Linked DNA regions of Homo sapiens. The protein of the gene in region 1 purifies or fractionates together with the protein of each later gene. This does not show direct contact. Each region holds a gene or a part of one and is shown on either strand. Other genes may lie near its edges. The genes, in order: CHN1 and CRAT.

Region 1 (3,818 bases):
GAAATTGTGGGCAGGGTCTCCTGAAATCACTGAGTTGAGAAAGAGAAAAGGATAAATAGGGTTTTTTGCACAGCTCCTTACAGGTAGCCAGGCCTCTTCTTGGATGAATTAGGCATCGTCCATTGGAAAGAACTAGGAAGTTAACTCTAGACTTCCTAGTTCCTAGTCAATCAAACCATTCCCAGTGCAGCCATCTTCCCTTCATGCCCTGTGCCCCCCATACTTCTCAGATTTCAAAAGGCAATTGAGTACTAAATGACTGACACCATTGCTTGGATTGTTTTTAAGTTCTGTATCCACTGTAGAAATGCCCACTGTAAAATCGTAAGTCCCAGCAGGAGTAAAATGGTCTGAGCCCTCATTGAAATGTGTCTGATACAACCGAAATATAAAGGGACTCAATGCTATGTGTGTTTATTATTGTAGGAGTCTTATAAAAGCTATGGAGTTGCTTTCCATGTTGCAGATAATGTATATTAGAAAAAAAGGAAATGATGAAAGCAGTATATTAAACTGAAAAACTTTTATATTTAACTTTGGTGTAGAAATTTCACCTGTCTAATTTTTTAGGCTTTATAATGAAAATATACTTGGGAGAAATGTGTCTTTAACATTAGAGGAAAATGGAGAACAAGAAAGTGTAATTATATGGATAGTTCACTTAAGTGTAAATCAAAATTTGATTGTTACTAAAGGATGGATAAATTATGCTTTAGAAGGGCCAACATGGATAGTACGTTGGATTCTAGATTAAATTGTTATTAAAGTCTAATTTGAACTACAGAAACAGACATCGTCTGGCTATTATTTTAAAAAATATTTTATTTCCTTTCCATACTTTATTTCCACATTAAGATGTTCCTAACTCCTATTCATTTGGAATATAACCTATACCAGAACAATTTTGTTATATAACAAGTTTATAGTCCCATTTAACGCTTTACTTAAACAGCGTTTATTTTAGTATTTTAGTTCATCCCTGTTCTGTTGTACTTTTAACAATGAAATTAAATATATCCTTTGTGACTTGTTTAGTTTTTAATTAGTCTCACTCGGGGTTACCTTCAGGAGACCATTACACTGGCAGCTCTTGTTGCCTTGTTGCCTTTTGACATCTGCTTTCATTAAAGTCAGTGCATTTTCTTGCCTGTGTCTTCCTGCAAGGACACTGATGTTAATCATGCCAAATTGGATCCATTTCTGAGGTCTGCTGCAGGAAGCAAAATACTGAAATTATCATAAAAGTAAACCATTATTCTTCAGTTGTTAGAGCACATCATCAGAACATAAAATTGAAAACAGAATTTCTATAGTCCAATAGCTTATGACTTTTGTGCCGTATGTATTTCAAACATTTCTTGCACAGACCTAACCAGCAGACAGAATAATGACTCTTTAAAAACGAAAGAATAAGTCCTTGGCCTGTGGCCAGAAGTAGCGAAAGTGTGTTTCTGTGCCATCCTGCCCTGCATGGCTCAGGTTTCTGGAGTCAGCTCTACTTTAAGTGATTGCTGGCATCATATTCTGGTTAGCCCTAAATGGAGCTTTCCTATTAAAATACATGACTGCTGAGGTCTAAAGTACATTGAATATTCTTATTGATCAACTTGAAGAAAAAATGTTAGTATAGAAATGTCATCTATTATGGAGTTGGCCAATTGAATATTGACTATGTTTTAATGTGGTGTGAGGTTTATTTTCTCCCATTTTTTCCACAGGTATAATAAAGTGGTTTAAAAAGATAAATAAAAAAAATTATTTCTATGGTAGGCATGCTTTTGACTAGTTGTCCCTAATTATTGCAAGCTCATTCTTTGTGTTCAAAGGTTTAATTTTATATATTCCAGACGATTCAGAGAGATTAGCCACAGCTTATTTAAACAAAGAAGACACACACAAAACAAAGCGATAGTTTTTTTTTGTTTTTGTTTTTTTTTCAGAAAGAATTCAGTTGCTTACTTTTCTTAAAAACATCTTTCCCATTTCATTGAGGCAGATTTGGAAGTCAAACCAGAAACTTCAGGCTCTACTACGATGGCAAGCACTTTGTTGGGGAGAAACGCTTTGAGTCCATCCACGATCTGGTGACTGATGGCTTGATTACTCTCTATATTGAAACCAAGGCAGCAGAATACATTGCCAAGATGACGATAAACCCAATTTATGAGCACGTAGGATACACAACCTTAAACAGAGAGCCAGCATACAAAAAACATATGCCAGTCCTGAAAGAGACACATGATGAGAGAGATTCTACAGGCCAGGATGGGGTGTCAGAGAAAAGGGTAAGCTACTATGAAACCACACTTTATCTTTTTCTGTTTGGGGTTCTTTTAAGAAAGCCATTATTGCCAGAAGAGATTGATTTATCCACAGTGCTTTGGAAAGTATATTCATTTTTCTTAATGTCTAGTTTCTGTGATGCTGAGCTTTGCATATAACTAATTCTTGTTCTATTAAAATATGTTAGGTAAATTTTTATATTCCTGGTTGTTTTCTGTTTTATCAGTTTCACAATTTTAAAACTATGTTGGAAAAATGGCCCCTAATAAAAAATAGTTCAGGGGATTGGTCAGAAGCATAACTCCTGGTCAAGAAAAGATAGCTACTATTACGTAAGTAATTGAGGGGGTTGCATTATCTCTCAAAATTACTTTTTTGTTTTCCTTAAAGATAATTTACTTTATAAATAGTTGTGTTCTTAGCAAGATTTTATGTGTGTGTGTATATTATGTGTGTGTGTATGTATACACACACATTTTGGGAGTCAGTCATTCTTGAATAGGAGGAGGATTTATCTCTTTATAATCTGTTAAGAAGTAATTGAATGAGTAAGATTCACTTTTACTTTTCCTTAATTATAAAAGACAATTAATTCTAAAAGACAATTTAAGTTTTTTAGCTGTCATATTTTAGTTGTGATATATTTCAGGTTAACATAAAAGTTTTAATTTCTTGGCATTAAGATTATTTTACTTTTGAAAATTGCCACCAGCCTCCTCCTCACCCCCAAGAAAAAAGTAAGAGATTTTCCTGATGTTTTATAGTGTGTGACATTTAGTTGGGGGCATTTTAGGTATTGTAATTGGAACTGTGTCAATTCATTTTTATGTTTTTAAGAATCTTCAATTGCTAAACCAAAGAAATGCAATAGGTCTTGAGCTCGGATTCTATGCAAGATTTGTGTGCAAGTTGTAATACCTAATTTGTCTGTGCTTTTGATTGTCTTATTTGTAAAATTGTAATAATGGTCAAATTGCTGTGAGGAGTGAGTGAGATAGCAAGCGTAAAATGCTCCATCAGCACTTGGCACATGTAGACACTCAATGTAGTTTGGTGGTAATGTTATTATATAGCAGCCATCTGACCTCAAGGCAGCATCCTCAAATAACTTCCCATTACCTTAGAGTATTTGGGTACAGAATGGAAATAAGAAAGTTTGTGTCCAGCTCAAATTTTAGTTTTTGGCAGATCTTACATTGGCATTTTGTTGCTACGGAGAAAACAACATTTAAAAGGATAAGCTGTAGAAAATGTATAAAAATTGTTTTTTTATATATTCATATTGTTAGGAACCACAAATCTTGTTTGGAAGTAGCCAGAACTTAAAATCCTTAATACCTGCTGTATTTAATATTCTTTTCATGGTCTAGTTCCCATTTTCTGACTATTGGTTGATTTTCCATTTATGGCATTTTTTAGTAATGCTTGTATTTGAATAATACTGACATTATATTCTTTGCAGATTTGCTAGAACATTCTAAGTCAGCATTTGTGAAATGTTTAAAAATGTGTACATGTGAGTCTTTCAAAATTGA
Region 2 (3,818 bases), on another chromosome or scaffold:
CCCCTAGCCCTGGGGAACAGGGGGCACCAGGGCCCATGCACCCCTCCTGACAGGCTCTGGCACTTTTCCCAGCTGTCTGAGTGGTGGCTCAAGACCGCCTACCTCCAGTACCGCCAGCCTGTGGTCATCTACTCGAGCCCAGGCGTGATGCTACCCAAGCAGGACTTCGTGGACCTGCAGGGTCAGCTCCGGTGAGTGGCTGGGGTTTGGGGGCCAGGAGGCAGCCGGGCCCCTCGAGTTCACTTCGCCCAGCCGCTTGGAGGGGCCCCGACCCTGTTTATCTTTCTGCCCCACAAGCAGCCTTATGAAGTAGGGAGCATCCTCCCTATTTTACAAATGGGGAAATTGAGGCTCGGAGCAGGGAAGGGAGCTGCCCAAGACCCCATTCAGGAAGCAGGGTCTCTCCAGCTCTAAAGCCTCATGGCTGTTAACCACCACATCTTCGCAGAGGCCCCATCCTCCTCCATACCTGAGGCTTCTCCCCGACCCCAGTTTTAGCACTTCACCTCTCCTTTCCACTCTTCTCAGCTAGCCACAGGGGTGACCTCTGTACACAGTCCTCTTTTCCACATTCAGCCAGGTCACCTGCCCCAGCCCCTATTCCAGTCCTACCAGAGATAAAAATACCAGTGACAAGGATCTCCTGCCCAAGGACCAGCCACTGGCTGCCACCACCTGCTTCTCTTAAAGGGACCAGGGTACCCTGGGAAGGGCCGGGGTTCAGGCCCAGGAACTCCAGCCACTGGTCCCCATGGTGGGATCCAGGGGCGGCCCCAAGCATTGAGGGTGGTTGCCATGGGCCAGACAGCCCTGGGAGGAAGGCGGCCTGGGGGACACAGAGGCCCAGAGTGGGGAAGGGACCTAGTGGAGGGAACACCGGAGCCACTGCTCTCCCATCACACCACCCCAGGGGCCCGGGGCCTCCAGAACCGATGCTTCAGAGCAGATGACACCCCCTCCAGATTCTAGGCTGAGGTTCAGGAGCTCAGGCCCTTTGTGGGTAGACCCAGCCCACTGACCCCTAACCAAGCCACACTCCAGCTGCAGGGGGCCAGCACCCAAGTCCTACTAGGCCCTTGGCCACCAGCACTTCCCCGAGCCCTCCCGACCATGCTCCCTCTAGAGGTTATGAAGAAGCACACACAGGCTGGCAAGCTGGGACTCGCAGGCCCCTCCCTTGCGCTCCCAGGCTTTCTGGAAGCGGTGAGAGAGGCTGGAAGACTAGACCTCCCGCTCCCCAAGCAGGTGTCCCTAGCCCGGGGCCTCCCTCAGGGTGTCCACGCAGCTTCTAATCTCTAATCAATCTTTCCAGATTTGCTGCCAAACTCATTGAGGGTGTGTTGGATTTCAAGGTCATGATTGACAAGTGAGCATCCCCACCCCTGCCCAGCCCCACACCTGCCCAGGCCTGCTTAATTACCACAGCCACCTCTGACCCCAGCCCTGGCCCGGCATGCCAGCTTGGGCCCTGGGCCCTGCTCCAGCTGCTGGAATCTCCTCTTGGTGGGTGACCCTGTCCCATCCCAACTAAAGAGGACCCCAGAGTTTTATTCGCTGCTTCATCTCCCCTGTGACAAACTGAAGCCCAGAGAGGGGAAAGGAGGGAGTTTCTAGATGACTTCTGAACAGGGCCCATCTGGGGCAGAAAGCGAGCCCCCTGCCCACAGCACAGCCCTGAGGTGTCCTGCTCATCTGGGAGTGGGAGCAGGGACACTGTGTGAGCCCCCAGCAGTACCTAGCAGGTCCCTGTCTACCCTGCCCTCCTCCCCATTCACTTGCCCAGTGGTGGCCTCACTGCCCCTCTACCCCATAGCGAGACCCTGCCCGTGGAGTACCTGGGGGGGAAGCCACTGTGCATGAACCAGTACTATCAGATCTTGTCCTCCTGCCGAGTGCCGGGCCCCAAGCAGGACACAGTCAGCAACTTCAGCAAGACCAAGAAGCCTCCCACGCACATCACCGTGGTACACAACTACCAGGTGGGTGGCCCCCACCCACACCTACAAGCCCCGGCCCTGCTGCAGGAGTACAGCCGGACGGCCGCAGTCGGCTTCCCCACTGGGGTTCCCCAGCACACGTGCCCACGTGCCCCAGGAATGGGCGCCCCTGGCTTCTCCATTGGGGGCCCAGGGAGGCCAGGAGGGGCCGTGGGCCTGCCCAGCCCAGAAGGGTGATCCAAGGACCTCCTCCCCCTCTCACCCTTGGCCTGACTCCATCCCCTCCAAGGCCAAGGCCAGGAGGAGGCAGGTGTGGGGAGGTGGCTGCTCTCAGCCTGAGGTCCCCACTCAGCTCCCTCCTCTTACCTGCCTGTGCCCCAACAGTTTTTTGAGCTGGATGTGTACCACAGTGACGGGACACCCCTCACTGCGGATCAGATCTTTGTGCAGCTGGAGAAGATCTGGAACTCATCCCTACAGACCAACAAGGAGCCTGTGGGCATCCTCACCTCCAACCACCGCAACTCCTGGGCCAAGGCATACAACACCCTCATCAAAGGTGCCTCTTGGGGGCCGTGCTGGGGCTGCACACCCAGGCCTCTTCCCCTGTTGGGGACCAGCCTCAACTCCACCTGTAGGGTACCCGAAGTCTGCTGGCAACAAAGGAATGAGAAGAGACAGGTTAAGAGTTCATGAAGGTGGGAGCCAGGGGCCAGTTGCAAAATGGAGGCTGCAAAAGGCGCAGAGTTCTGGTCTCCACACTATTGAGTGCAGTCACTTAGCTCTAAGAAGCACATGTTCAGGGCGAAACAGTGAAAGGGAGGCAGTGCCTCATAGGAGGCATAATCTATAGCAATAGCAGTTTAAATGAATCTCCTTTGTGCTCAAACAGCGTGTCTTTAACTTATCGGAGAGTAGCTGGTGGGAGCGGGCTTAACTAGGAGCCTGCACATCTGTCCACTTCCCAGTGTTTCAAAGGAGTGTCTTTCTCCTTGAACACAGTGTTTACAGATAGGAGAGCGGGTCTCGCTCTGAGCATGGGAACATGATGGCAATTAGTAGGCTTTCCTCCTCCGTGGCCTCTTCTGGCTTTCCACAACTTATTGTCCCCTATTTTTATGGCCAGTTTATACAGGCACCCCACAAGTCCTTTTCCCAACATTCCCCCGGCATGCTGGGCCCCGCACAGCCATGGGCAGACATGTTTCCCGCTGCATCCTCTCAACGTGGAGCAGGCAATGTGGGCCCCATGTCCTAGTTGAGGACACCTCATGGTTAGGGTAGTTTCTCTCAGCTAAATAGCAAGTTAGGATTAGAGTCCAAGTCCTCTGGCTGAGAAGCCCACCCGCCTCCACACCCCCTGTGCCCCCAAGTACCAGCAGTCCTCCAAAGCATGTCTTGCTCAGGGGCATTGACCCCAAAGTCAGACCACCTGTGTGGGTTCCCCGGCTGCCACACCAGCTCCCATGTGACCCCTGGGCTTCGGTTTCCTGTGTCTAAAGTGGGCCAGGTGTTGGGCCCTGCCTCGAGGAGTGCTGTGGGCCTGCAGGGTCCTGTTGAGTTCGAAGCTCTGAACCCACACCCTGCACTTGGTGAATGCCCTGGAGGGCCGGCGAGGTGGGGGGTCTCCTCATCCCAGAGAGGTACAAATGGGTCAGAAGAGCCCAGGGCAGGAGGCTGCGGAGGGGCTGGTCCATCTCTCCCACACCATGAGACCCCATTTTGCGTCTCCCCGCCCCATGCCACCTGCAGACAAGGTGAACCGGGATTCCGTGCGCTCCATCCAGAAGAGCATCTTCACCGTGTGCCTAGATGCAACCATGCCCAGGGTCTCAGAAGACGTGTACCGCAGCCACGTGGCAGGCCAGATGCTGCATGGGG

The links.
Region 2: the proteins of CHN1 (region 1) and CRAT fractionate together in Homo sapiens (co-fractionation; one large-scale study listed by BioGRID). This does not show direct contact.

What each region holds. Positions count from the first base shown.
Region 1 is NC_000002.12:174,876,307-174,880,124, reverse strand, and holds part of CHN1 (N-chimaerin), read left to right. Parts: intron 1-1,996; coding exon 1,997-2,285; intron 2,286-3,818. UniProt on the Homo sapiens protein: GTPase-activating protein for p21-rac and a phorbol ester receptor. Involved in the assembly of neuronal locomotor circuits as a direct effector of EPHA4 in axon guidance.
Region 2 is NC_000009.12:129,100,561-129,104,378, reverse strand, and holds part of CRAT (carnitine O-acetyltransferase), read left to right. Parts: intron 1-72; coding exon 73-191; intron 192-1,312; coding exon 1,313-1,366; intron 1,367-1,813; coding exon 1,814-1,979; intron 1,980-2,321; coding exon 2,322-2,496; intron 2,497-3,689; coding exon 3,690-3,818. UniProt on the Homo sapiens protein: Catalyzes the reversible transfer of acyl groups from carnitine to coenzyme A (CoA) and regulates the acyl-CoA/CoA ratio. Also plays a crucial role in the transport of fatty acids for beta-oxidation.